Homo sapiens: one gene and its partners. The protein of the gene in region 7 purifies or fractionates together with the protein of the main gene of each other region. This does not show direct contact. Each region holds a gene or a part of one and is shown on either strand. Other genes may lie near its edges. The genes, in order: FLNB, DEK, PAWR, USP16, PGM1, CSE1L and TXNL1.

What was found.
Region 1: the proteins of TXNL1 (region 7) and FLNB fractionate together in Homo sapiens (co-fractionation; one large-scale study listed by BioGRID). This does not show direct contact.
Region 2: the proteins of TXNL1 (region 7) and DEK fractionate together in Homo sapiens (co-fractionation; one large-scale study listed by BioGRID). This does not show direct contact.
Region 3: the proteins of TXNL1 (region 7) and PAWR fractionate together in Homo sapiens (co-fractionation; one large-scale study listed by BioGRID). This does not show direct contact.
Region 4: the proteins of TXNL1 (region 7) and USP16 fractionate together in Homo sapiens (co-fractionation; one large-scale study listed by BioGRID). This does not show direct contact.
Region 5: the proteins of TXNL1 (region 7) and PGM1 fractionate together in Homo sapiens (co-fractionation; one large-scale study listed by BioGRID). This does not show direct contact.
Region 6: the proteins of TXNL1 (region 7) and CSE1L fractionate together in Homo sapiens (co-fractionation; one large-scale study listed by BioGRID). This does not show direct contact.

What each region holds. Positions count from the first base shown.
Region 1 is NC_000003.12:58,144,422-58,147,921, forward strand, and holds part of FLNB (filamin-B), read left to right. Parts: intron 1-1,499; coding exon 1,500-1,628; intron 1,629-2,398; coding exon 2,399-2,572; intron 2,573-3,500. UniProt on the Homo sapiens protein: Connects cell membrane constituents to the actin cytoskeleton. May promote orthogonal branching of actin filaments and links actin filaments to membrane glycoproteins. Anchors various transmembrane proteins to the actin cytoskeleton.
Region 2 is NC_000006.12:18,237,031-18,240,530, reverse strand, and holds part of DEK (protein DEK), read left to right. Parts: intron 1-3,014; coding exon 3,015-3,150; intron 3,151-3,500. UniProt on the Homo sapiens protein: Involved in chromatin organization.
Region 3 is NC_000012.12:79,584,379-79,587,171, forward strand, and holds the end of PAWR (PRKC apoptosis WT1 regulator protein), read right to left. Parts: 3' UTR 501-2,793; downstream 1-500. UniProt on the Homo sapiens protein: Pro-apoptotic protein capable of selectively inducing apoptosis in cancer cells, sensitizing the cells to diverse apoptotic stimuli and causing regression of tumors in animal models.
Region 4 is NC_000021.9:29,051,828-29,054,988, forward strand, and holds the end of USP16 (ubiquitin carboxyl-terminal hydrolase 16), read left to right. Parts: intron 1-1,974; coding exon 1,975-2,131; intron 2,132-2,238; coding exon 2,239-2,360; 3' UTR 2,361-2,661; downstream 2,662-3,161. UniProt on the Homo sapiens protein: Specifically deubiquitinates 'Lys-120' of histone H2A (H2AK119Ub), a specific tag for epigenetic transcriptional repression, thereby acting as a coactivator.
Region 5 is NC_000001.11:63,599,911-63,603,410, reverse strand, and holds part of PGM1 (phosphoglucomutase-1), read right to left. Parts: intron 1-3,500. UniProt on the Homo sapiens protein: Catalyzes the reversible isomerization of alpha-D-glucose 1-phosphate to alpha-D-glucose 6-phosphate. The mechanism proceeds via the intermediate compound alpha-D-glucose 1,6-bisphosphate.
Region 6 is NC_000020.11:49,070,312-49,073,811, reverse strand, and holds part of CSE1L (exportin-2), read right to left. Parts: intron 1,527-3,500; coding exon 1,359-1,526; intron 1,245-1,358; coding exon 1,115-1,244; intron 1-1,114. UniProt on the Homo sapiens protein: Export receptor for importin-alpha. Mediates importin-alpha re-export from the nucleus to the cytoplasm after import substrates (cargos) have been released into the nucleoplasm.
Region 7 is NC_000018.10:56,628,593-56,632,092, reverse strand, and holds part of TXNL1 (thioredoxin-like protein 1), read left to right. Parts: intron 1-3,500. UniProt on the Homo sapiens protein: Active thioredoxin with a redox potential of about -250 mV.

The DNA of each region.
Region 1 (3,500 bases), on a different chromosome or scaffold from region 7:
CAAACGGAAATACAGATATATAAGAGAGTGTCTTCCCAGCCTTCCCTCATGTGGACGAACCATTACATATTTGACCATTTCCCTATTGGAGGGCATTTTGGTTCTTCCTGCCCTCGCTGTCCCCAGTGTTGCTGCGCAAATCGACTTTTCCCCTAGTCACCTCACACTCACAAAGATGTATCTGTGAGATTTAGTTACCAGAGGAGGCAATGCTAGGGCCCCAGTGCAGGCATCTATGATTTTGACAGATCTTGCCAAATTGCCCTTCAGAGGGGCTGTTGCAGTTCACACGCCCTCTGGCCATGGAGAAGAGCACCTTCTTTTCCACAAAATTTGCCAGTAGAATATGGTATCAAATTTTTGGAGCTTTGCCAGTCTGATGGTTGGAAAGAAACAGAATCTCAGCGTTGCTTTATTTGTATTTCTCTTGTGAATGAGACCACACAACTTTCCCTATGTCTATTTGTATTTCTTTTTCTGTGAACTGAACATTTGGATCCACGGCCTGTTTTTCTATTTGGTTATTGGCCTTTGTCATATAGTTTCTAAGAGCAATGTAAACATTGGAGAGATTAGCCCTTTGTGGTAGGAGTTGCAAATGTTTCTCTGAGATTGGCATTTACTTTAGTTGTCTGTATGTAATATTGGTTTAAAGCAAAAATGTATTATCTGCTTCTATTTAAATATTCTAAAGCGGCAGATGGAGAGAGAGGAAAAAATGTCTTTCTCACATCTGCCATCCACTTCCACTGCTGGTGTGAGTTGTGTATCTTTTCAGATGTTTCTCTCTGTATCTACAAACATACATATAATTTTATTCTATTTTGTTTTTAAAGGAATAGCATAATGGTATTCATAGTTTATAGCAACTTGCTTTTTTTCTTTTTAATGCATCATATTATGGATAATTTCTCAAGTCAGTAAACATGGGTCTTCCTCACTCTTTTTAATGGCCCATGAGTAGATCAGCATTTATTTAACCGGTCCCCTGTTGTGAACACTTAGGTCTTTTCCTGATGTGCACCCGAACACTGCAGAAATGAAAGTGCTTACATAGGGCTAGGAGTCGGGGTGGGCAGAGAAGACCACTGTGGGGTTGATTCCTTACAGGTTGAATGGCATGGGCAAATGGCCTTCCAAAAGCCCTTTCCACTTACCTTCCCTCTGGCCATGGGTCCTTTCACCACCCAGTGCAAAAGTTTCTTCCTTATTTGTCAGGTTGGGCTGGTACCTTACCTTAGCCCCCTTCCTCATCTGGAGCAGCTTCCAGGATTGTTTTTCTTATGTTGTGATTGAAGGAATAATACTGCGTAGACCCTCTCTGATGTCCTAGGATGGCGGGGGATGGGAGGTGCATGTGCATCTCCTTCTGTCTCTTCATGCCTCTGCTTAGGAGGCGCCAGACCTGTAGAGAGGTGGACGTCAAGATGCCAGTTGTCCAGGGTCTTCGTTCACCCCTTAATGAGCACCAATTTTGTTTGTGTCCTTCGTAAACCCAGAGAGCCCACTCCAGTTCTACGTGAACTACCCCAACAGTGGAAGTGTTTCTGCATACGGTCCAGGCCTCGTGTATGGAGTGGCCAACAAAACTGCCACCTTCACCATCGTCACAGAGGATGCAGGAGAAGGTACTGTGTGGTTTACGTGTTTATACGCCTCCAGCTGTCCATTTGGAGGGTGAAGTGGACACGGTTCCAGGGTGGCTTTTAAAAGTGAGACAATCGAATGGTAGTATTTGTCTTGTCTTTTCTCTCGTGTAAATCTGTTTCTTCTTTAGAGCCGCTTCGTCTTCTACCCAGACAGACATTTTTGAAGTCCTTTGTGTTCTAACTGAAATCAGATTCATGCTATGAAATACTTTATGTGACTTGTCTGGAATTTAAGTGTGTTTTGGTTGGTGATGTTTTTGTTCTTGTTGCACATGTATCCACAAGACCACATGACTTACTGAGTGGCTCTTTTTGATAAAGCTGTGTGCCCATTCCCGTGGTATTCATGGATAATCCCAAATCTGTGGTTCTAATGGGATTTCCGTGATGGCAGCCAGTGCCTGATGGGCAGGGACAATCCACCTCTGCCCTCCACCACCCACCGTCTCCTATGTGTAATTGATGTACACGGCTCCTTCCTTTTCTCATCCCATGCATCCTGAGAGTAGAGAGAGCTCCAGGGTTACTTGCAGTGAAGAACTCAGATGTTTGGGGTTTCTTCTCAGTGGGTGTTTTTACTGCGTGGACTGCTTCATTCTGACAGATGTCCCTTTGCCCACAGCTCACGTGGAGTGCGTCAATCCATTGTCCCCAGCATCAGGGCTGCCCTGGATGAGTTGTTAAAAGGAAACTCTTAAAACAAGGCAACTCTCTCCCTAACACCCCTGCATCCCTGTTCCCACTTGTAGGTGGTCTGGACTTGGCTATTGAGGGCCCCTCAAAAGCAGAAATCAGCTGCATTGACAATAAAGATGGGACATGCACAGTGACCTACCTGCCGACTCTGCCAGGCGACTACAGCATTCTGGTCAAGTACAATGACAAGCACATCCCTGGCAGCCCCTTCACAGCCAAGATCACAGGTAGGGTTGTCTGGCTTCTGGGGTCTTCCTCGTGGGAAGTATGGCTGCCTCTGACTGCCACCCTCCTTATCAGACCCCTGGCAGCAGGCTAGACGTCTCTTTGAGTTTAGGTTTCACAGAGACTTGTTGAGGAGGAGCAGGGGATGGAATGCAATTTTGGATTAGCTAAATCCTTCTCTTGCTGATAATCCAGGAAAATGCGAGAGCTAGTATTTGGAGCACACTTTTATTGTGCCAGTGTGACTCTAGGGTGCAAAGAGAAAGCTCTCAGATGGAGTGTTCGAATCATACTTACTGCAATAGTGCATGAAGTGCATGAGCTTAGACATGCCCTTCAGCGTCACTACTAGGTAAATTTTCTGCTATCCCTTTTACAGATGGGAAAACTGAGGCTTGGCAAGGTAGTGGTGTAGCCAAGTTCACATATAGGTAAACAGATCCAGGTTATCAAATTCCAAAGCCCATGCTCCTCACCTTGCTGTGTTCAGGTTATGCTTTCAGTGGGTTATAAGGAAGATGCACAAGGCAGATCCTGTTTCCCCACCGTATTTAGACCTGTCTGTGAAGCAGCCAGTAGTACTGTGTGGAATGTGGTCATTGTTTACCTAGAAATGCCCACAGCCATGCCAGGCAGGTATGAGGTGCCTTCAACTAACAAAAATTCCTATATTTTATTTTATTTTTGAGACAGAGTCTCACTCTATCACCCAGGCTGGAGTTTTAGTGGCATGATCTCGGCTCACTGTGACCTCTACCTCCTGGGTTCAAGCGATTCTCCTGCCTCAGCCTCCTGAATAGCTGGGATTACAGCACCCACCACCACACCCAGCTTATTTTTGTATTTTTAATAGAGATGAAGTTTCACCATGTTGGACAGGCTGGTCTTGAACTCCTGACCTCAAGTGATTCGTCTGCCTCAGCCTCTCAA
Region 2 (3,500 bases), on a different chromosome or scaffold from region 7:
TTTTCATCTGTTAATGTATCTACTCCCCATAAAACCATAGGAACTATTGTTTCTTTTGTTTTGTAAATGAGACAAGGGCCCAGAGATGTACTGGGGCTGGAATTTGAAACCAGGCAGCTTGCTGCTAGAGCCTGTACTCTTTGAACTATTATGTCGTATATTTTTCTTTAGTGCTTGTGCAGTATATTTGCAGTCTTTTAGAAATTTTAATAGATGACAGGCCTGGTTGTCCGTTTAGAAAAACTGTAGAACATTATCCTTTACAGCAGATATGAAATGTAGAAAGATGTGGTTTTGTTATACAGAAGTAAGATTTTATGGAGATGGCTTGTTATTTATTATTATAAATGTTTATGCTTTGACAAACTGTCACTACTCACAATTTGCAGGTTTTAAAATGATGTCATGTTGTGTATCACATCTAAAATTTTAATGGCAAGCCTTAAAAGGCTTTGGAAGTATTTTAGTTATCTAATTCTGATTTTCTAATTTGAATGGAGATTGAGTAATTATTGATGATATTGTTTCTTTTGCTCAACCTTCAACCCTTTCAGTAATAACTTACTTTCTTGTACCTGCAAGTCCAGATTTTATTACCGTTTAACTAAAAAATGATATATAATCATGATTATTGTATTCTGTGTATTAAGTGTGCTAAAGAACTTAAGAATTTTTAGGATTCCCTTTCAGAGCCTAATATATAGTTCACATGAACTGGGTGGACACTTAATGAACCTTAAAACTTAGTTTAAGTTCGTCATAAAAAAACGACAAATCATTGATACTTGTCCCATAGCCCCACACCATCTAGAACATCTCTTAGGATTAGGAAGTAAGTTAAAATGGCCTGTAAATCGCAAAAGTCCATGGGAAATTCATGTACTTACTTTTAGAAGCATGTCAGCCCCTTGACACCTTAAAAATGTATTTTTTAGTAGCAGTTAAACTACATGCTTCCCAGCCAGTGGTATATTGTTGAGGTAGTGCAGGGTGATGATAGGCTTGTATAAATAGGTACAGTGATGGTATATTAGCAAAAAGAAAGACAAACACTAAAATCCAGCCAGGTGAGGTGGTGTGTGCCTGTAGTCCCAACTACTCAGGAGCCTGAGGTGGGAGGATTGTTTGAGTCTAGCATGGGTAACATAGCGAGACCATCTCTTTTTTTTAAAAAAAAAAAAAAAAAAAAAAAGACACTAAAATCCAATGAATAGCTTGAGGCCACTTTTGGAACAGATTGATGTGTATACTTTAATCTAAAGGATAGGTTCAACACAGTGCTTATGTCTTTAAAAACAGGTTGACTTGGCCGGGCACAGTGGCTCACGGCTGTAATCCCAGCACTTTGAGAGACCAAAGTGAGTGGATCACCTGAGGTCGGGAGTTCCTGACCAGCCTGGCCAACATGGAGAAACCCCGTCTCTACTAAAAATACAAAAGTAGCCGGGTGTGGTGGCGCATGCCTGTAATCCCAGCTACTCAAGAGGCTGAGGCAGGAGAATCACTTGAACCCGGGAGGCAGAGGTTGCGGTGAGCCGAGATCATGCCATTGCACTCCTGCTCCTGCCTGGGCAACAAGAGCGAGACTCCATCTCAAAAAAAAAAACCAGGTTGCTTTAGGATAACTCTCAGGAATCAAGAGTGTTAAACATTTGGAGAAACGTTCTGTCAAGTGATCGCAGTAGTTTTAGTGTGTAAATGGGAGAATTTAAAATATCTTGGAATGTTTAATAGGAAGCTTTTCCTTTGGGAACATTAATTAAACTAAGAATTAATGCTTTCTAATTTCACAGGCTCCACATGAGACAAAGTATGAACTCTGATTTTGTCTTTTTTTTTTTTTTTTTGAGACAGTCTCTCTCCTGGAGTGCAGTGTCATGATCTCCACTCACTGCAACCTCCATCTCCAGGGTTCAAGCAATTCTCTTGCCTCAGCCTCCTGAGTAGCTGAGACTACAGGTGCCCACCACCACACCCAGCTAATTTTTGTATTTTTAGGAGAGACAGTGTTTCACCATGTTGACCAGGATGGTCTCAGTCTCTTGATCTCATGATCCGCCCGCCTTGACCTCCCAAAGTGCTGGAATTACAGGCATGAGCCACCATGCCTGGCCTGTCATTTTAATCTATCCATATTTATGTATTTTGTTTGTGTCTAATCACCTATGGGTTAGTGTTTAAGAACACAAGTTCTGGAGTCACATCTATATTTGAATCTTGCATGTTTATTAATGTGACTGTGGACAAGGTAACCACACTGAGCCTTAGTTTCCTCATATAGTCATAAGTATTTATTGAGCAACTACTGTATACCAGAGACTATTTTAGGAGTTAGGGAAACATCAGTGAACACAAGATTCTAGGCCAGGTGTGGTGGCTCATGCCTGTAATCCCAGCACTTTGGGAGGCCAAGGCAGGCAGATCATCTGAGGTCAGGAGTTCAAGACCAGCCTGGCCAACATGGCAAAACCTCATCTCTACTAAAAATACAAAAATTAGCCGGGTGTGGTGGCGAGCACCTGTAATCCCAGCTACTAGGGAGGCAGAGACAGGAGAATTCGCTTGAACCCGGGAGGGCAGAGGTTGCAGTGAACCAAGATCGGGCCACTGCACTCCAGCCAGGGTGACGCAGCAAGACTCTGTCTCAAAAAAAAAAAAAAAAAAAAAAAAGATTCCAGTTGAAAGAGAGAGAACATAAATAAGAGAAGATAATATTATCTATATTTAGGGGTCCCCCCCAAGATTAAGTAGAGTAATGCATATGTAGTTTATCCATAGTGTTGAATAAATATGGGCAACTCTTGTGTGTGTGTGATTGTGATTTGTCATGCTTAGACTTGTGTTGGGATAAAATTGTTGTATATTAGTCATCTCTCAAAAAGAATTTTTAATTGCTGATACCAAATATATTGGTTTTCTCTAATATTATTAAGGGGCATAGGGGAAGTAGAGGGATGGGATGGGATAGCATTGAATCTCATCAATATGTGTACTTTTACTTTCTTTTGTAACAGCCACCAAAAAAGACAGCCAAAAGAGAAAAACCTAAACAGAAAGCTACTTCTAAAAGTAAAAAATCTGTGAAAAGTGCCAATGTTAAGAAAGCAGATAGCAGCACCACCAAGAAGAATCAAAACAGTTCCAAAAAAGGTATGTTAGAAATAACATTAATCAGCAACTTTAAAGATATAGCATATATTAATATGTTGTACATAGTATTTAAGTGTGTGGGAGAAACAGGTAAACTGCAGAGAACATTGCGGGGAGAAGTAATACAGGTTGAATATCCCTTATCTGAAATGCTTGGGACAGGAAGTGATTCAGATTTTGCAATATATATATATAGAGAGAGAGACAGAGAGAGAGATATCTTGGGGATGGGACCCAGTCTAAACATGAAATTCATTCATGTTTCATATTCATCTTAAATAGCCTGAAGGTAGTTTAATATTTTAACTAAATAAATTATTTATTGCAGTGGTGCCGTTACAGCTCACTGT
Region 3 (2,793 bases), on a different chromosome or scaffold from region 7:
CACAGCCAAGAGAATTTTATGGAGACACAGGTACTAAATATAATGTAGTATCCTGGACTGGACACTGGAAAAGAGAAAGGACATTAGGGGAAAATTTAGGAAATCTGAATCAAGTATGGACTTTAATAATCGTGCATAAATATTGGACGATTAACTGTGATAAATGCACAGTATTAATGTATGATGTTAGTAGGAGAAACTTGGTGTGGTGGCATATGAGAACCCTCTGTACTATCTTCACAATAACTTTATAAATCTAAAACTGTTCTCAAGTTTGTAAAAAGTAAACAGGAGTAGCTTATTTATTTATATAAAAAATGATCTTGAATCGATAAAGAGTCAATTTTATCTTTACTCATCAGGATGCAACACTGTGATTTCTCCACACTGATCAATTAGCTCAAAAGTGCTATTCATTTTCTGAGCTCACAGAAAGTATATTTTGAAGATTCAGGCTCCTCAGGGACCACCCATACAAAACACATACAAAACAAATTGTATAACTGATGAAACATACATTTATTTTTTCCAATCAAGTCTTAAAAGTTTGATGAAAGCGCATTATTGTTACCAAAAGTCTTCAGGCAATAACAGAGATAAAACTTAACACAGACAAACAATGATTTTATTCCATAGTCTCTTGGACTTGAGAATCCATTTGAGTTTCAGAAAGAATACTAAATTAATGGGGGTTATGTCAGGATGCCAATGTCCATGCTGAGGCTTCTCCTGATACAATCTTTTGCAACATAACCAACAAAGATCAGGAGCTTAAAACAAAACAAAACAAAAACAAACAAAAAACAAGTTCATGTTATTTCTACAATGTCCAAAAAGAAAGACCAAGATCTTTGCTTAAAAATAGAAATGCATACTGCAGTGGCTCAAAAACTTAGGCCTGCATCAAAATTACATGAAGCGCTTGTTAAAACAGATTGAGCCCCATCTGCAAAGTTTGTGACTCAAGTGTTGGGTGGGGCCAAATAATTTGTATTTCTAACAGGTTTCTAAGTGAAGTCAATGCTACTGGTGTCAGAAACACACTTTAAGAACCACTGGCAAAACATTTAATAAGACAATTCCATGATAAAAGTATATCATAACATAAAACCACAAAACTTTGGACTCAAAGACTAGCTTTGTGATACAATGTCACCTTACCAATCTGTACACTCCACAAGTTTTTAAAAATTAAACAATATATAAAGCACCTAACACAGCCTGGCACATACGGCTACTGAATTACTAATGAATGTTATTATGCTATCATAAGTTATGGTTAAAGTTATGCTCAAATTGTTACCTGAGATGCTTTGCTTCATTGAAACTATATTGATTATTTTTATTTTTGAGGTAGAGTCTTGCTCTGTCACCCAGGCTGGAGTGCAGTGGTGTGATCTTGGCTCACTGCAGTCTCGACCTCCCAGGCTCAAGCAATCCTTCCCCCTCAGCCTACCAAGCAGCTGGGACTACAGGTGCATGCCATCTTGCCCAGCTCATTTATTTTTTTGTATAGACGGCATAACCCTGTGTTACCCCGTTGGTATTACAGGCATGAGCCACTGCACCTAGCCAGGCATATTGGTTTTAAAAGGGTTACAAGAAACAAGATGCACTTTTAGGCCTCCTATAATCCTGCATTTCCAAAGCATCCATTTAGTCATCTCATCAAAATTTTCATTGATTTAAATAAGTTAATATGAACAGACTGACATAATTTTACTTTAATGATGTTGTTTATTGTCCTAAGCCATCCATACACAAAACGTTTAATGTGTTATGGAAGGCTAACAGTTTTTCAGCTTTTCTCAATACTTTCAGCCATCCATACATAAAATGTTTAATGTGTTATGGAAGGCTAACAGTTTTTCAACTTTTCTCAATACTATCAGATGAATGTATTCTTACCAATCATGATTTACGTTTTTCAAATGTGGATTTCTTAGGCCTTTGACTGATAGCTTTAGGCTTTTGCACTACACAAAGAAAAAGACACCTTTCTATTCATTTCTTAATAATTTGTTTCCATAAAGCTAAAATGTCCACTGATGACATAATCTACCTTTGGTTAATCACAGCAAATAGTTCACATTTTAAAGGAATGCAGATATTTGGATAGAAGCCTCTAACAATGTAAATATTGTGCATTTCAAGTTCCATAGTGTGTCTAACCAGGGATAGCAACTGATTATATGTGGATTAACAATAGTGAATAACTGAGCACATATTAACATGAATAACATACACAGCAGTCAAAACTTACTGTTTTTCATATGTGTAAAGTAAAAATTCAATCTATCTTTAACCGGCTCATACTGTTTTCATGTTGTTCAACTATTTGACACAAAAGGAGCTTTTTCCTTTCTTTAAAAGGATTTTGATTCAGTCATAACAGATTTTTGAAAGTGACAGTAAAATTATGCATTTGGTCCAGGATTAAGAGGGAAGTTTTGCTTGCTAGTGTCTATCTGGTTAGACATCAGAATAAAATGAATGGACTGTAAAGGATCTTATAACCAGTCTCTCTCTTTAATATGAAGGCCCAACATTACATAATTCTTTTTAAGAGTTGACCAGGAATGAAATGTAACCTCTTTTAAAGATGAAGAAAAACTGAAAAAATGAGATTAAGAAAATATGTGGGTAGTTTACAGCTGCTGATAGAATTGTGTGCACGCGTGCATGCATGCATAAACACAAAGTGAATCTAGAAGGGAAAAAATTGAGTTTGATGAAGTCTAAGATGAAAGGTTCCATTTCATGTAAGATTATGTGACCTTGGAAAAATTTACT
Region 4 (3,161 bases), on a different chromosome or scaffold from region 7:
TCAAAAAAAAAAAAAAGTCTGGGCCAGTTGCTGTGATGGGCATAATGGAAGAGGCCGCTAAGGACAATTTATAAGATTATGGTCACATTGAGGACTATGACAAGGTACATGATCATTTATTATACTTTTGTTTCTTGGCAGTAGTGGCCATCTGGGTTTGGGGCATGGCAGGTACATTATAGGATTCAGGGTGAGGTTTTGTGATGAATTGGATATGGAGGAGATTATTTGTAAGTGATACATGTGATTGAAGTTCCCAAACTTTAATGTGTATGTGGGAATCAGACCTACAAATTTTGATTCTGTAGGTCTAGTATGGGATCAAAAATTCTGCATGTTTAATGTAAACTCTCAGGTGATGCTGATGCTGGCTGTTCATGGACCACATTTTGAATAGCAATGGTCTAGACTGCATATGGGAATTATATTATGTCAGTTTCCATGCTGCTGATAAAGATATACTGGACAAGATATACTGGGCAAGACTGGGCAATTTACAAAAGAAAGAGGTTTACAGTTCCACATGGCTGGGGAGGCCTCACAGTCATGGCGGAAGGCAAGGAGGAGCACGTCACATCTTACATGGATGGCAGCGGGCAAAGCAAGAGCTTGTGGAGGGAAACTCCCCCTTAAGAAACCATCAGCTCTCATGAGGCTTATTCACTATCAAGAATAAGGATGGGAAAGACCTGCTCCCATGATTCAGTTGCGTCCCAACGGGTACCCTCCCATGACATGTGGGAATTGTGGGAGCTACAACTCAAGATGAGATTTGGGTAGGGACACAGCCAAACCATATCAGGAATGAAGCCAAAAGTCTTCATAGGTGAGGAGAATATGAGCATTGGAGATCCTGTTAGGTTAAAGAGTACAGAATAGGTGAGATGAGAGTTGAATAAATAGAAGACTTGTGGACTAAGACTAAAAATAAGATTTATGTCCCTTCAGCTCAGGAGTTTGAGACCAGCCCAGGCAACATGCTGAAACCCCATCTCTACAAAAAATTAATTTAGCAGGTCATGGTGGTGTGCACCTGTAGTCCCAGCTATTCCAGAGGCTGAGGCGGGAGGATCACTTGAGCCCAGGAGGCAGAGGTTGCATTGAGCTGAGATCATGCCACTGCACTCCAGCCTGGGTGACGGAGTGAGACCCTGTCTCAAAAAAAATTTTATGAAGTTGAACAATTCTGAGTGATGACAAGCCCAGACTCTAGTCCTGGGTGTGGTTGACTAAAATGGAATGGCATTTAAAGTCCTGTGAGAATCATAGATGGACGGAGAAGTACTAAGTTCTTCAGTGAATATGGAGGCACAGATTGGGAAGCTGAGTATAGGAGACAGTACTACTGAAGGGCCGTGATGCCTGTTACGGACTTTTACATGAGAACATAAATAGTTGTCTGAAAAGTGGCTCCTGGCCCAGAGAATGCCTGTTCCTGTTGCCAGCCCTATGGCATATAGAGTCCTGAAAGAATAAGCAGCGTGCACTCTCTCGTGGGGAAAGTGAACACTTGAGAGGTTGAATGTGCTTCTCACCAACTCCCTTGGGGACATTTAAAGATGTAAGGGGTAATTTTTGGCACAACCTAAAATACTGTTCTCTTCCTGTTCAGGGCTTACCTTTTTTTAAACAGGGTATTCAGAGTTGTTAATAGCTAGGGTTGTTAAGAATTATCCTCAGGCTCCTAAAGAAACTGGCAAGTTGAATTCAGTTATTTGGTATCTGAGCCAGGTAACTGCATCAAGTGGCCTGTGGCTTACAGCTTTTCTACCAGGGGAACAATGGTGAATTTATAATAAAAACAGAAGTGTCTCAGGCTGAGAAGAGGTATGGAGAAAAGAGTAGACTCATGAATGATTTCTGCACTCTCAAAGTAATGGTTAAAGACCCTTTGCATAGTGTAAACTTGTCTTGCCCATGACATCTGTGTAAATGGAACTAGAACTAACTTTTGGATTCTACTCATTTTTAAAGAATGTTGCAGAAGAAAATACAAGGGTACTCTATTCCTTATATGGAGTTGTTGAACACAGTGGTACTATGAGGTCGGGGCATTACACTGCCTATGCCAAGGCAAGAACCGCAAATAGTCATCTCTCTAATCTTGTTCTTCACGGTGATATTCCACAAGGTAAGATGTCTTGGAAAATTCAGGCACTCAGCAGATTACGGCAAAACCAAAAAGTAATCAACTTGAATCTTTCCATTTATGTTTGATTTTTCATTTTCTCATGACAGATTTTGAAATGGAATCAAAAGGGCAGTGGTTTCACATCAGCGACACACATGTGCAAGCTGTGCCTACAACTAAAGTACTAAACTCACAAGCGTACCTCCTATTTTATGAGAGAATACTGTAATAATATCAAAAGCACTTTTTCTGGAAACACATTTATGGCTTTTATAATGGCTGAAATAACGATAAAAAAAGACTAATTAAAATCATGTTCACTTAACATTAAATACATGCCAGAAGAAATCATGTTTATTTAAATATTGAAGGGAAAAATACCTAAAAATGTACAAAGGTTTTATATTGTCATAGTGGTTTTTATTCCTGCTTTGTTTCTGGAAAGGAAATCCTGAATTACTTAAGTACTTTGTGTTTAATATATCTGGGTGATGGATCACAACACATCAATAAACTGACTTACCCTAAAATCTTGTTTTATTACTGGGAAGATTTTAACTTCTATTGACTTATCCTACTAGGTAACACTTTAAAAAATATTTCATCAGACTGGCTAATGAAGCTTCATTACAAGTGTGTTAATTTTTTTTTTTTTTTTTTTTTTTTTTTTTTGAGACGGAGTCTTGCTCTGTCGCCCAGGCTGGAGTGCAGTGGTGCGATCTCAGCTTACTGCAAGCTCTGCCTCCTAGGTTCACGCCATTCTCCTGTCTCAGCCTCCCGAGCAGCTGGGACTACAGGCGCCCGCCACCACGCCCAGCTAATTATTTGTATTTTTAGTAGAGACAGGGTTTCACCGTGTTAGCCAGGATGGTCTCGATCTCCTGACCTCGTGATCCACCTGCCTTGGCCTCCCAAAGTGCTGGGATTACAGGCTTGAGCCACCGCGCTGGGCCATACAAGTGTGTTAATTTTATAAGCATCTATATTGACAGCAGAATATAAATGGGAGCAATGTTTCTTTATAAGCCTT
Region 5 (3,500 bases), on a different chromosome or scaffold from region 7:
ACTTACATAGCAAGATCTCCGCACTTCCCTACTCCACATACTCATTTCCTGCTTAAAACTGCCCAGATTAGCATTATCCTCAGCCACTCTCAGTGGGAACCTGGTATTTGGAACATGGCCCAACACCCCTTACATTCTAGGAAGAGTGGGGGCAGTTCCCAGGCTCTTTTCCTGACTTTGTGACCTGGGACACCTGAAAGGTTTGTTGTAGACAGGAAATAAGGCCATGCATGTGGCAGTAACTTGTAAAATAGAAAACATGAGGTACATTTTTAGTGCAGTTGCTCCTTGCAGAGTATGAAACAAAAATACGGAGTTGGGGGGCAGTGAGGGGAGCTTTCTCTTAAACATGCCAAATTCTCTCACCTATGGTTCTGCCTGGAACATTCCTCTCTGCTCTTCACCTTCAGGTCTGGTTTTAGTTGTCACTTCCCTACTCCCTCTGCTGGAACCAGGCACGCCTCCTTTATGCTTTCCTAGCCTCCTTTGCTCACCTCCATCCCAGTGCTGACAGCACCTTGTGGCAGTTCTCTGCTTGTCCGTAACCCACCTAGCCTCCAACACAAACCTTCACCTTAAGTCCCAAGCATGTGAGGACTGGGCCTGTATTGTTCTCTGCTGCAACCTACGAGATCACCATGAAGTTTCACCAATCAGCTCATTTTGAGCTCCCTGCCAGTTTACAATCCTCACACTTGTCGGTTTAGCCCCCAAATGGCTATGACACCATGCAGATTAAGCCCTCCGGACTCACACAATGTAGTAGCCATTTCAATTCACTCTTGAGCAACATTTCAATTCACTTGTGAGCACATTGGAGTACAACATACAGGACTAATATTTGGTCAGAAGGACTTTTGTCACTTACCTCATAACTCTACATGTGGTGACCTGGTTAGAAAATACTTATTGGGCTGAATCAATCACACTCAAAGCAGCCAAGAACAAATTCATATATTAGTTGCCAAAATAAGCCATATGGTATACATGGATATTAAAACAAAATTTCACCTTCCCTGCATGCCCTTAATGGCAGTTTAAAAAGAAGAAACTTAAATCTGAGAAGATTCTTGTATAATATAGATGGTCCTATCAACCCAGCATGGTATAGATTGGTATTTCCCAAAATTCTTCTGTTTGGGGTCCTTTTACAAACTCTCAGTACTCATATATTAAAAGCTCTGAAACTCCTACTTAACATTGCCCAAGCCAGTTTCTCCATGCTATTAACCAGCATATTATAACAATCCCCAGAACTACTTGCTCTGGGATATATTTATTTATGGAAAAGACCAACCAGATGAAATATCAGAAGACTGGAGTCCCTGTTCCAACACCATTAGCATACTGGACAAGTCAACCAAATATTTCTGTCCTACCACCTATCGCATTTCATCCTTCAAAAACACTTTGGGGTACTCATAGAGAAAAAAAGAACATCTTTCCAATATGAAAACATAATTTTCCAAGTGTTTCTGATTCATGATTAAATCTTTATTGGCATGACTTAATTAGCATTCCCCACTGTGTTAATTCAGGGCTGTCTTTATGCCTTGGGGAATCAGCTCAGTGGTGATTTGGAGAAGCTATGGGAAGGAGGACTTCCAACAGCTGAAGTTTAAAAAACTAAACAAAACAAAACCCAGCTTACATCCATCCGCGTATCCCAACACTAAGCACAGCCTTCTCACCCTTTCCAAACAACTCCCTATGCTGCCCCCTTGTGATTTCTTTCCCCTTTGAGGACCCCAGGGGAGAAAAGTCTTCTCCGCAGTCCTCCCAACTGAAGCCCTCGGCTAGCCATTACTTACTTAACACACTCAGGAGCCATTTTTCAAAGGTGGATCCCAACTGTGAGCACAGCTTCAAAGTCAGCAGAATAACTGGCTATGTCTGTGTGGGCCTCAAGGGAACTTGGAGGAGAATAAAGGGATCAGTTCAAACTTTCCTGCTTCACTTTCTTAGAAGTGTAGCTCACTCAAATCAATCTGCTGAAAGCTCTTCTAAAGTCTAAAGGGGTCCAGACTACACCACTGTGACATAAAAATTATTTTGAGCCAGTCATTTAAAAATAGGCTTTTTACTAAACTCCTTCATCTGTCTTAAAAGCAGTGTGCCCCAAAGGAACTCTGGAGTTTCACAACCAGGGAAGATCGACTCATTACCATAACTAAATAGACACTGGCATAAAACTACCACATCTCCTATCTAGTCTCTTAAGGGCTGATTTATCTCTCCTAAAGTCGTGGTTTCCAGCAAATGCTCTTCTCCTCTTCCGCCTTCCCCTACTGAGATGATGTATAGGCCCCCAAGTCTAACTGCCTCCTGTCACATTTTTCTGTAAACTCCCACAAATGTCTTTTTGTTGCTCATTTGTCTTTTACATTTAATTTGCAAGCCCCCAGTATATAACCTAGGAGGGTAGATGAAAAGTTTTCCCTACCCTAGAGTCCAAGAGAGAAAAAAATTATTGTTAAATATTTGATCAATGTTGATTACACATCTTATTATCCCAAGATAAATTTATAATAGAATAATACTTATAATCTATATGCAAAATGTCATAGTATATTGGGACCCTTTGTACGATAAAATGTATGCTACATTTATTTACCTGAGGCATAATTTTATAACATTAAATGATTATATGTGTTTATCCTTTCCATCTAACTCTTCCTCTGTCTGGAAGTCTTTTCACGGATATCTGCATGGCTCACTCCTTCACTTCATTCAGGTCTCTGCTCTCATGAGGTTTATCAGACATCCCAATTGCTGCACTAAAAAGAGCAGCCCATCCTCTAATGCTGTCCCCTTTACTGGGTTTTATTTTTCTTCAGAGAACTTATCTTCATTTGACACGTTTATCATCTGTCAGGCTCAACGAGAACCCCACAGCTCTGTAGAGCAGAAACTTTGTTCAATTCACTGTTGTATCCGTAGTACCGAGAACCTAATAGGTGCTCAATAAATATTTATTGAATGAGTCACTCTTTCCAAAACAGTAGAGCACTCTTCCCTGTTATCTTGTTTACAAAAACAAAACAAACCCTCTATCTCAGAAAGGGAGAACGTTTTTCTTTTTCTTCTACAAAATTTCATGAGCATTAGATTTGATTAAAAAAGAAAAAGGAAAAAGATGTTTCACCAAGAGCATTAGTGAAGCCAAGAAAGAAAAAGTCCCAAGCAAGCTGATTTAAGTATTTTATGTAACAAAGATTGTTTAGTGACTAAGTGTCCGGCTCTAAAAAAGAGTCCTGCCTATTCTCTCTTTCTCACTTCTCTCGGCAGGTCCCCTTCCTGAAGGGTAGCCCCATCTTCTATCGCACACTATCCGCTCTTCAAGACATAATTGGTTTTAGGTGCAGGCACCTCTTCTTTCCCAATCCAAAATGTTCTCTCTCTCGCTGAGCTCAGCATGTTTTCTAATTCTGTTCTTTGTATGTCTATGTGTTTCTTCTGTCTTATCTCCCCCAAAAGATTGTATGCTCCTGGATGGAAAG
Region 6 (3,500 bases), on a different chromosome or scaffold from region 7:
ACTATTTTGATATAAAACAAAATCTTGGCCTGGCATGGTGGCTCATGCCTGTAATCCCAGCACTTTGAGAGGCTGAGGCAGAAGGATTGTTTGAAGCTAGGAGTTTGAGACCAGCCTGTGCAACATAGGAAGACCCCCATCTTTATAAAAAATAAAAAACTAGCTGAGCATGGTGGTGCACGTCTGTAGTCCCAGCTACTCAGGAGGCCAGGGTGGGACAATGACTTGAGCCTGGGAAGTTGAGGTTGCAGTAAGCCATAACTGTGCTACTGCACTCCAGCCTGGGTGACACAGTGAGACCCTGTCCCCAAAACAAAAAACACAATCCCTCCCACCTTCATTACTTGTTCTTCACAACTGTTAGAACAAGGACATACATTTTATAAATATAGGCTCTTAGCACTATAGTTTAACCTTAAGCACAAACTAAGTGGGCTTCAACCTTGTATTTATAAAGTTATCATTTCTATTCTCAAGTCGATTGTTTAAAAACAGCTATTTCTGGGCGAGGTGGCTCAGAAATGCAATCCCAGCACTTTGGGAGGCTAAAGCGGGTGGACTGCTTGAGCTCAAGAGTTTGAGACTACCCTGAACAACATGGTGAAACCCTGTCTCTACCAAAAATACAAGAAATTAGCCAGGCATGGTGATGTGTGCCTGTGGTCCCAGCTACTCAGAAGACTGAGGTAGGAGGATCACTTGAGCCTGGGAGGCTAAGGTTGCAGTGAGCCAAGATTGCATCACTGCACTCCAGCCTGGGTGACAGAGCGAGACCCCTGTCTCAAATAAATATATAAATAAATAAAGCCAGCTAAAAATTCATTGAAATAATAAATGAAACAAAATCAAATTCTTTCTCTAAATAGAAATTCCAGATAGTTTATCTTCTTAGTGTAAAGGAATTTTTGAAGTCTTATTTAATATTTCCATGAGAAAACCCTCACAGGGCACAACAAAACTCATTACAGATACTACATTTTCTGTCTTGGTTTAGAAAATAAGAAATAAATGACATACAAGTTTTATCCAGTAATAAATGAATTAGACTGAATATGTTACAAAAAACAAACACAGACTTAGTAGATTTATACTAATATACTTTTGCCATAATTACCTCTAAATTCCATGTTAGGCACAATAACCTTTTCACAGATACTTGTCAGCGTGTTCTGGTCCTCAAATAGATTCTTATAATGAGGTCTCTCACAAACTGAAGCCAGAAATTGAATTGCATTACTTACCAACTGGAACAAAACACAAAAACAAGAATATTTTTAAAAGCAAAACTCAACAGCTTATTTCTTGGAGGAGATAGGGAGAGAATGTCTTTTAATTATTTGTCTCCACCATCATCTTACCAAATCATATTTAACCTCTTGACCCGTTGTAACTAGTAAATTCCAGATGGCTGTAACAAAACGAGGCAGGTATCGCTGGAATTCTTCATCGTACTTTTGTGCATAGAGTGCGGCATTATCACAAATCTGGGATTTTAAGAGCTCCAATAAGCCGGCTTCCTCTTCATCCTCACATAAAAGAAAACAAAAACTCCAACATACAACTCTAATGCTAACATAAGTAAGAGGAGTAACTGAAATTCCTGAACTAGACTCTTTATCAATTAAATCCAAATCAAATCAGTTATTGTAAACTACAGCTATGCCACCACCAATCTTTTCACCAAGTCTTTCAAATAAGTTGCTGAATTACAAAATATTTCCGTATTAGATTCAAACAGTATATTCTGGCTGAGTGTAGTGGCTCACGCCGGTAATCCCAACCCTCTGGGAGGCTGAGGCTGGAGGATGGCCTGAGGCCAGGAGTGGTTTTTTTTTTTTTTTTTTGAGACGCAGTCTCCCTCTGTTGCCCAGGCTGGAGTGCAGTGGCGCGATCTCAGCTCACTGCAAGCTCCGCCTCCTGGGTTCACGTCATTCTCCTGCCTCAGCCTCCCAAGTAGCTGGGACTACAGGCACCCGCCATCACGCCCGGCTAATTTTTGTATTTTTTTTTTTTAGTAGAGACGGGGTTTCACCGTGTTAGCCAGGATGGCCTCGGCCTCCCAAAGTGCTGGGATTATAGGCGTGGGCCACTGCGACGGGCCAAGCCCAGGAGTTTTGAGTCTAGCCTGGGCAACACAGCAAGCCCCCAAAATAAAAAAAATCAGCTGGGCATGGTGGTGCATACCCATAGTCCCTGCTACTTGGGAGGCTGAGGTGGGAGGATCACTTGAGCCCAGGGAGGTCGAAGCTGCAGTAAGTCATGATCATGCCACTGCACTCCAGCCTTGGTGACAGAGTGAGACAAGGGAAGACATCAGAGTAAGAACAAAAACCAAAGCCAAAACCAAAACTCCCTCACACTGATTACTTAAGGCATAAATAGTAGCACAAGGTAGCACATGGTTAACTGGGCAAAAAGGTCCTTGTAAGAATTCTATCCAAAAAATTTCCTTGTGACTTTTGTGTGAAGAAAAGTTTTGTTTTCTGAAGGAGTGTTTTTCCCTCCCATTGGACTGAAATAATTATTTTATGAGAGCTACATCTTTTAAAGTTCCTATTAATATAGTCAAACTCTGAGACAAAATCTGTTGTACAACGATAGTAACAATTTCTTTCTGTACCCCACTCTTAAAACCTGATTTGAATCACCAATTCTAATTTTTAGTTTATTTGGTATTGAAATATTTTTAATATTTTGTCTTTTGTCTCTTCGGAAAGAAGGTCATAAATATATTAACAAATGAGTAGCACAGAATAAGTGTTATATGTTTAAAAGTACACAATATAAAACCCATATCAGAAATATTTACAAATTACAATCTTTTACCATTTTCTCTCTTTCTCGAGCTGTGGATAATTTTTTCTTTTTCTGAGACGAGGTCTCCCTCTGTCTCCCAGGCTGGAGTGCAGTGGCATGGTCACAGCTCATTGCAGCCTTGCCCTCCTGGGCTCAAGGTCAAGGGATCCTCACAACTAAGCCTTCTGAGTAGCTGTGACCATTAGCATGAGCCAACACATCTGGCTAATTTTATTTTTATTTTTTGTAGTGATGGGGGTCTCCTTACATTGCCAAGGCTGGTCTTGAACTCCTGGGCTCAAGGGATCCTCCCCACCTTGGCCGCCCAAAGTGCTGGGATTACAGGTGTGAACCACCATGCCTAGCCAGATGATTTTTAAAAAGGGGCTACCATTATAGAGTTTTAAGTTTTCTTAGTATCTTCAATGAAAAATAATTTTATTTCATGAAATATCCATAATGTCACTACTTTAAAGACCTACTTTCAATAATGTAATGAAACAGCCTTATATGTACACTATGGCTTAAGCCAAGCCCATGATAAGAGTAATTCTGTATACTACACACACCAAACATGTAACATCAAATAGAATCAAATATTATTACAGTATTGAAATTTTATCTTTTAACAATGCAAGAGTAAATAGGTTTCCAGACTGTAGCCAAATAACTCTTAATGAAAGAAAAAGACCACTCAGGCAACA
Region 7 (3,500 bases):
TTGGATTATATTTATGAATTGCCTGTTCTAGTGGTGGCCCTGCCGCCAACTAGGATGTTTGGTGTTGGGCAGGTCATCTTATGATCTTCACTTCTTACTTACTGGTTAATTATATTAGGTTATGTCTGTTTTAAAGTTTTAGTTTTGTGGGTTCCTTTTTTTTTTTTTTTTTGAGACAGAGTTTCGCTGTTTTTGCCTAGGCTAGAGTTCAATGGCGCAATCTCGTCTCACTGTGACCTCTGCCTCCCAGGTTCAAACGATTCTCCTGCCTCAGCCTCCCAAGTAGCTGAGATTACAGGCATGCGTTACTAGGCCCAGCTAATTTTGTATTTTTAGTAGAGACGGGGGTTTCACCATGTTGGTTAGGCTGGTCTCGAACTCCTGACCTCAGGTGATCCACCAGCCTTGGCCTCCCCACAGTGCTGGGATTACAGGCGTGAGCCACTGCGCCCGGCTGGGTTTATTTCTTTATACATTGTAGAAAGCTAGCGGTTTACTGTATTCTTTTTCTCAAACAGCATAACTCAAAATCCTTCTAACATACACATTTTATATATTGGACTAAGCAGATAAGTTTTCAGTCAGAAGGTTTAGAGTAGAAAAGTAACTTTTTTTTTTTCTTCATTTTAAATGTCTGGACTAGGTGATCTCTTGAACCTTTTGCAGTGAAATAAGAAATCGTAGATTGTGCAAAGGGCAGCTAATCAAGGTGTGTGCAAGAGAAAAAGGTGTAATTCTGAAATTCAAGCATACTGGGTGCATAATATTGTAGAGCTGGGAAAAGTCCTTGGAGAGTCCTTTTATTTTATACAGAGAAATCAGGTGACTTGTTCATGATCTCAGCTAATGGAAATTTGTTTACTCTCAACTGCTCCTGTTAAGGAGACAGACATCTTATGTAAAATGATCAATTGGCTGGGCACAGTGGCTCACACTTGTAATCCCAGTACTTTGGGAGGCTGAGGTGGGAGAATCACTTGAGTCTAGGAGTTTGAGACCAGCCTGGGCAACATAGGCAGACCTCGTGTCTTCAAAACATCAAAAATTGGCAGGGTATGGTGGCACGTGCCTGTAGTCTCAGCTGCTTGGGAGGCTGAGGTGGAAGGATCACTTGAGCCTGAGGGAATGAGGCTGCAGTGAGCCATGATTATGCCACTGCACTCAACCTGGGTGACAGAGTGAAACCCTAAAAAAAAAAAGAAAAAAGAAAATGATCGATTTATTTGAATGATTGTTTTGTGAAAGTGTGCTGCTGTATATATTTGTGAGTTTGTATATATTTATGCTTCTCTGCTGATGCATTTTGATTTTTGACCAAAGTTCCAACCTCTGATGGCTAACTGAAATTAAAGAATCTAGATAAAGTTAAATCTTGAAACAGTTTTTTGCACAGTAACCATAATTTTAATAGTCTGTTCAGCTGCAAGATGTGTGTCTGTAACACCAGTTAGCTCGTAAATAATTGATGAATAGAGAGATGTCAATGTGATATGGAAGTTGTATTGGTTCATGTGTGATTATTCCTAGGTAGTGAAAAATAGAAATAAAACCTTCATCTGGAAGCAGAAAGCTCTCAGCCACACAGGCAAATTCCCTCTCTTGTTTATTTTAAGAAAGTTAATGAAGTTAAATAAGAGTGCCTACACCTAGCGTTTGTTCCCCAGAAGGGTTTATTTTCAGTGTTGCATTTTCTCCTGTCCCTTCCTTAATGGCAGCCCCACTGGCTCAGAGCTCCACTTCAGTCTGCTTTGTCACAACACCTGTAAGCATCATTTCCAGTTGATTTTGTTCTTTTCAAATATTCCCCAAGGTCGCTTCCAGCTCTGAGCCACATGCTGGGATGTCCATCTTTTTCCTGAATCCTAGTTACTGTCTTTTTTTTTTTTTTTCTTTTCCAAGTTGGAGTCTTGCTCTGTTGCCCAGGCTGGAGTGCACGATCTTGGTGACCTTGGCTTAACTACAACCTTCCGGGTTCAAGTGATTCTCCTTCCTCAGCCTCCCGAATAGCTGGGACTATAGGCATCCGCTATCACGCCTGGCTAATTTTTGTACTTTTAGTCGAGATGGGGTTTCACCTTGTTGGCCAGGCTGGTCTTGAACTCCCACCCTAAAGTGATCCACCTGCCTTGGCCTCCCAAAGTGCTGAGATTACAGGCATGAGCCATCATCGGGCCCAGTCTGGTTACTATCTTTCTTACTGATCTTGTTACAAAATTGCATGGGTTTCAAGTAGTTTGCCAACAAACTTATTTTTCCCATAAATTCTCTCTTTTTGGTGTGTGTTTTTGCAGGAGGGTGGTTTTCATGAATGGATATATTGTACTATAGAATGGATACCTCTGTAATTTGTGACACCTGTGTAAATGCAGTTAACACTAAATTCTTCTCAACTCATTTAATATTTTAAAATGAAAATACCTATTCATCACAAAAAAGCAAAGGATGCAGAATTATGGATACTAACTGTTCATTGTGCCTGTCTCTGTCTTTTTACCCCCTATGCATTTATATATATACATAGGTTTGAAATGTGATCCTAGAGAACATTTTATAATGAGACTTTCTTCCCCCCTAAACACTGCAAAGTATCAGGCTGGGGTGCAGTGGTGTGATCTTGGCTCACCGCAACCTCCGCTTCCCGGGTGCAAGTGATTCTCCTGCTTCAGCCTTCTGAGTAGCTGGGATTACAGGCATGCGCCACCATGCCTGGCTAATTTTTGTATTTTTAGTAGAGATGGGGTTTCACCATGTTGGCCTGGCTGATCTAGAACTCCTGGACTCAAGTGATCCGCCCATCTTGGCCTCCCAAAGTGCTGGGATTATAGGCGTGAGCCAGCGTGCCTGGCCCCTGTCATAACTTTTTAAACTAGTTTTCCATTAATTGCCATTTAAGTTGTTTTCTAACTTTACTATTACAAACATGTTACATTGAACTTCCTTATACTACATGTTATTGTGAAATAGAGTAAGTGTTGTTAAAATGGAATAGACTTTCAAAAGGGCAATTATTGGGTCTTGGCTTGTGTTCATCTAAAATGAATAGATATGACCCAATCAGTGGCCTTTGAAAAACAGTGTAGTGATATATATTCCCATTTATAAAGTTTAAGACTAATTTTAGTTGACTGTAAATATTATTTTCTTAGATTTTTGGTGTATGGCTTTCAGGATAACACAAGGTGAAATGCTGATTGAAATGTTAAGAATGTGGAGTTGATCACAACTTGAGTTTTAACATTTGTTTTTATTTTGTGCATTAGATTTGCTTTTTCTTGCATTTCTTATTTCTGCAAACTTTTATTGAGACATACATGGCACACAATTAGAAATGTATAGTTCAATTAATTTTCACAAACTGAACACACCTATTTAATCAGCTTCCAGACAAACAAAACATTGCTAGCCTCCAGAAGTCTTATTCTATCAGTAACTCACTAAGGTAACCATTGTCTTGATTTCTGATACCATTGATTGGTTTTGTCTGTATTTGAACTGTATGT